2 separate regions of the Homo sapiens genome follow, and region 1 is linked to region 2. Evidence: fine-mapped expression QTL. A gene starts in region 2. The other region holds a variant in brackets. All regions are shown on one strand. Distances are between the middles of the regions.

Region 1 (3,013 bases), 63 kb after region 2:
ATCTACCCTAATTTCTATGAAATGATCTATTTATATCACTGACTTTTCTTTTTCTCTGATTCTATATTTCATTTAACAATCTGCAGACTTTCACCCCATTTCCCAGATGGGAAAACCCTAGCCCCCTCGTATCTCTGAGAAGTTGCTCAGAGTAGGACACAGAGAAATATGGCCCCCACCCTGGGAAGTACTGCTGTCACTGTTTAAGTGTATTTCAGTTCTGTTACTCCAATTCATACACACAGTCTTCCATGAGGATGGTAGGATGAACCTGGTTAGCTGGCTTTGGATAAGCAGATCAGCATGACTACCTGGAATAAAAGTGACTGACTCTAGGATAAAAATTAAAAAAAGATTCTTTCACAGCAACGAGTCTTTGCAAAACCTCTCTCCTAATAATCACAAACCAGGGGAAGAAAAGTGGGAGCAGGGAACACAGGAACACAGCCAAAGGGAATATTGCAAAATGCTTCCCGAGCTTCATCAGACAGACTTCTTGCAATGCCACGACTGGATGCATCTGCACACAATTCCGGGAAATGCCCACCTTGCTGTTCTCCTATCCCCAATTTTCTTTCTTTCTTTCTTTTTTTTTTTTCTTTTTTTGAGACAGAGTCTCTGTTACCCAGGCTGGAGTGCAGTGGTGCAATCTCGGCTCACTGCAACCTCTGCCTCCCAGATTTAGGTGATTCTCCTGCCTCAGCCTCCTGAGTAGCTGGGACTACAGGCGCCCACCACCACGCCCGGCTAATTTTTGTATTTTTAGTAGAGACAGGCTTTCACCACGTTGGCCAGGCTGGTCTCAAACTCCTGACCTCAAGTGATCCGCCCACCTCTGCCTCCCAAAGTGCTGAGATTACAGGAGTGAGCCACCGTGCCTGGCCAGTCCTATCCTCCCCCCAACCTTTTTTTTTTTTTTGACATGGAGTCTCACGCCATCACCCAGGCTGGAGTGCAGTGGCGCCATCTTGGCTCACTGCAACCTCCGCCTCCCATGTTCAAGTGATCCTCCTGCCTCAGCCTCCTGAGTAGCTGGGACTACAGGCGCCCGCCACCACGCCCAGCTATTTTTTTGTATTTTTAGTAGAGACGGGGTTTCGCCATGTTAGCCAGGATGGTCTCGATCTCCTGACCTTGTGATCCACCCGCCTTGGTCTCCCAAAGTGCTGGGATTACAGGCCTGAGCCACTGTGCCCAGCCTTATCCTCAATTTTCTAAGCATAAGGATTTAAGAGTTAGTGGGAAAGCATGACTACGGTTTAAAAGAACCTGGTCAGCTGAAGCAGTCCCACTTGGCCATTCCAGTACACTTCCTACTCTCGCTTCATGGAGAAGACCGTCTACTGACAAGAGAATCCATCCCCTTTGCACACAGTGGTCACCTGACAGCTCAGAGGTCAACTTCTTGGTTTTGAGGAAAAATTCAAAAGGCTGCACGTTTAAAGGAGTTGTTCCATTTCAGTGCCCCATTAGCCTGTCTTTCCTCAGAAATTTACCAATCTCTTGATGTGATAAGCACCAAACTATGAAGCTTTTCCCTTCCTCTCCCCGCTGCTCCGTTCTGTGAAC[C/T]GACTTTTTGTCTACAATCACACTGATTTCTTCACTGTTTGCTCTGAAACTTCACTTTTTCTGAGTGATGTGTTCTGTCAAATAGGCTAAAATAAAATACAGTATCTGCTTACAGGTAATATACGGAACAATAACAAGGGACTGAAGGTACAAAACACACACGGACATTATGGTCATATAAAATATATAGAAGTACCTAACGTTAACAATTTTTGTAAGAAGTTGCACATTTTGCTATTTTTTTAAAGCATTTCCCCACATTTTTTTTCATCTGTAGATCCTCTGCAGTTAAGATTGAGCACCCCCCCGCAACTTTTTTTTTTGATACAGAGCCTCGCTCTGTCACTCAAGGCTGGAGTGCCAGTGGCATGATCTTAGCTCACTGCAACCTCCGCCTCGCAGGTTCAAGCCATTCTCCTGCCTCAGCCTCCCGAGTAGCTGGGACTACAGGCGTGCGCCACTGTGCCCAGCTAATTTTTTTTTGTATTTTTAGTAGAGACAAGGTTTCACCATGTTGGCCAGGCTGGTCTCGAACTACTGACCTCGTGATCCGCCTGCCTCGGCCTCCCAAAGTGCTGCGATTACAGGCGTGAGCCACGGCGCCCGGCCAAGATTGAGCTCCCTCTTGCAATGTTTCTCAAATTCATCACGATTGGAACATACCGACGGAATTCATTTTCTGTCTGAAGCAATGAGTGCTATACATGAAAGTTTTCCTCACATATAATATTCATCAAGTTTATTTACAGTATAAGCTTTCCGATGCTAAGGGCTGAGATGTGATTAAAGGCTTTGCCGTATTCATCACATTCAGGAGGCTCCTTTCTGGAATAAATTCTCTGATGTCTATGTGAACTGTCCCACGTATCACACGTCAACCTCTCTATACATATTTAGCAGTTTCACTTTTATGCCTTTAATATTAAGTGCTTTACATATCAAGATGTCTCATAGATCGATAATCTCAGGTTTTAGCCTTGCCTGCCAGGCTGGAGTAGAAACAAATACCCCACAACCTGAGGATTTTACTTCTCTTCCTGGCAAGGGTAGGGTATATATTGAAAAACTCTTCAAAAATTTCCATTAGGACAACTAGCATGCTAATGGTTAACTGTAGAATGTTTCAACTGTTAACAGACTTCAGCGGGCCAAGAACTTTTGAATGACTATCTTGAACGCCAATTAGATGTTGCAAGCGTTTTTGACCATGACCCAATTACACTTTGCACTGAGCATCTGATAAACGAATGCACTGCAAGTGGTTTTAATAAACAGTTGTAGCCTGTTTTCCTCAGAAAACACATCTTCAAATAGCTGCTTCAAGGACAGCATGTGGCTGAAGATCGAAGCAACCCTAGTGGCAGCTATCCAACAAAGTCAGGAAGATGTCTCCATGAAACGGAATTAAATGTGAGGGCACAGGTCACATTTAACCTTCATTTAA
Region 2 (2,500 bases):
TGATCAGAACCCAGGAGACCTGAGCTCGGATCCCGATGCCTCTTACTAGTCACAACAGCAGTGCCTTTGGGAGATACATGACATATGCCTGGGCCCAGCTTCCCAATGTGGAAAGGGGGTTAATTACACTAACTACCCCGAGTTGCTGAGGATGGAGTCACGCAGGGAGCTGGGCCTGGTGTGTTGCTGGCGCCCATTGACTCTTTTTTTTTTTTTCCCCACCCCCACCTACCCCGAGAGGGAGTCTCGCTCTGTCTCCCAGGCTGGAGTGCGGTGTCCGGATCTCGGCTCACTGCAACCTCTGCCTCTTGGATTCAAGCGATTCTCAAGCCTCAGCTTCCCGAGTAGATGGGATTACAGGCGCCCGCCACCACGCCCAGCTATGTTTTTTTTTTTTTTGTATTTTTAGTAGAGGCGGAGTTTCACCATGTTGGCCAGGCTGATTTCGAACTCCTGACCTCAGGTGATCCGCCCGCCTCGGTCTCCCAAAGTGCTGGGATTACAGGCGTGAGCCACCGCGCCGGGCCTCACGTTAGCTTTATTTGGCGGAATGCACCCCCCAAGTGGAATCTACCAATGAACCAGTCCTGGGAGGGAGCTGGCGCCCACCCGGCCCGACGGGACCCCGCTCCTCACCCGCCTCCCGCCACTGGTTACCATGACAACCGGGGACTCGTCTCCTGGCAGTCCCGTCAGCTTCCGGTAGAAGAGCTCGGCCACATCCCGGCCGCCACTGTCCCCGCGGACTGGCGGGTGGAAGGACTCAGTGAAGGATCCTGCGACACAGGCTGGCCCTGGGCGCCCCTCCCGCCCGGCCCCTCCGCCCCTTCCCAGCCCCAAGGGTCTAGGATACAGTCTTTGTAGATGAGCGGGTCCCCCTTGGAGGACAGAATGAAGAATTGGGAAATCATGGCCGTTCTGGAGAGTAGACAAGAAGACGGCGAAAGTCGGGCCTGCCCCGCCCTGCGGCCCCGGAACAAAAGAACGCGTGTGCGCTGGCCCTTTAAGAGCGATTCTCCTCCGCCCGCGCCAGCTCGGACCGCGGGAAACCCGGCGCCTGCACTACCCCGCCCGGAGATTCCCTTCCGACGCCCGCACCGCCTCCCCGTCACTCATTCTAGGCCCGCACGGTGATTGGCTTGCGGCTAGCGGGAGGTGAAGAAGGCCGCCTTGTCCGATTGGCCCGCACGCAGTGGCGCCGGTCACGTGGGGGGCGACGTTTCGCGCCAATTTCGGTTGGCCGGCCACAGTCCACCGCGCGGAGATTCTCAGCTTCCCCAGGAGCAAGACCTCTGAGCCCGCCAAGCGCGGCCGCACGGCCCTCGGCAGCGATGGCACTGAAGGACTACGCGCTAGAGAAGGGTACGGGTCTACGAGCCCGGGAGGGCGTCCTGCGCGGGGAGCCTCCCGGGGAACACCTGTTGGTGTGAGCTGGGGTCTTGGGGGACCGGGGTCGGCGGGTTCTGGGGTGCGCGAGGCCAGAGGCAGGGTCGAGCTGCGGCCTGGCTAAGGCCCACGGGGCCTGGGAAGCGTGCGGGGGGCCATCGATGTTGAAGAAAAGCTAGTAATCCCACCTGGTAAAGGTGTTAGGGTCGTGGGGTTGGGGGCTTGGGGGCGCGCTAACCCGGCTGGGGGCTGCACAGGGAAAAGTCGCGCCCAGGACCTCAGGAGAGTCTTAAGGGCTCTGGGCTCCCGTGCCCGCTTTCCTTCGCGCTTTTGGGCATTCCCAGGTTCCCGCGCCCTCCCCAGGCGCGCGTAGGCCCCGGGGGCGGGCAGGCCGGGGCCGCTGCGCGCCGGGATTGGCCGTTTGAGGCCGCCCTCCGAGCGGAAGTGGAGCCGGGCGGAAGTGGCGCGAGGAGGCTGGAGGGAGTGTCGTGTAAACAGTGTCCTTCCGCGCGGCGGCCGCGGAGAGAGCTGCGGCCCGGGGGGGCGTGCCTGGGATCCGGAGCTTCGCTCGGGCCCGGGAAAGGCGGCAGTGGGCTGGGATCGCGGTGTCTCTGGGTGTGATGGCCAATGGCTGGACTGGCTCCCGCCCTGGGCGGAGGAATCCCGAGCTGTGAAGCGGCTGGAATCCGGGCCCATGTGCTTCTTTGTTTACTAAGAGCGGAAGCGATGGCGGGAGCGGGGGTGGGGTGCGGTGGCGGGGTGCGGTGGCGGAGGTCCCGGTGAAATCAGGGGCTAAGGGGACCCAAAGAAGGCGGGGGATCATAGGGGTGGAAAGAAAGCTGAGAACCTTGAGACCGGAGTGTGAGGGGCCAACGGGGAAGGGCGCTAGAATTTTAAACTAAAGTAGGGACCGGAATTCCCCTGGGGAGATGTTGGATGGCCCTGTGCACTGCCACGGGCTCTTTATTCTTCGCTGGTTAGAAACAGACTTGTGAAAAAGAGTTATGCCCACTTTGGGGAGACTTCGGTAGGTTTATTTAAATGCTCATATTATTAATTAGTTCATAGGTCGTGTTTTAAGCGAAAATGGGTATCTAAGATTTGTCTTAAAGTT

The links. PIP is the estimated chance that this variant, and not a neighbour inherited with it, causes the effect. A credible set is the group of variants that fine-mapping cannot tell apart.
Region 1: its variant is the best candidate, but not a certain one, in a credible set for the expression of AP4M1 in whole blood (TOPMed, PIP 0.61).

Annotation. Positions count from the first base shown.
Region 1 is chr7:100,036,901-100,039,913 of GRCh38, reverse strand. ZKSCAN1 (zinc finger with KRAB and SCAN domains 1) reads right to left here. Exons shown (of 6, transcript NM_003439.4): 6 at 1-3,013. Among named protein-coding and RNA genes, the nearest start is that of ZSCAN21, 11 kb to the left of the region's middle. RefSeq lists enhancers at 1,583-2,082, 2,083-2,584. The variant C/T (reference allele first, on the strand shown) is at 1,570.
Region 2 is chr7:100,100,126-100,102,625 of GRCh38, reverse strand. It overlaps AP4M1 (adaptor related protein complex 4 subunit mu 1), which reads right to left and starts at 983. Exons shown (of 15, transcript NM_004722.4): 1 at 854-983; 2 at 658-746. The coding sequence starts at 911. It overlaps MCM7 (minichromosome maintenance complex component 7), which reads left to right and starts at 1,229. Exons shown (of 15, transcript NM_005916.5): 1 at 1,229-1,362. The coding sequence starts at 1,332. RefSeq lists enhancers at 905-954, 977-1,529, 1,875-2,034 and a silencer at 1,665-1,764.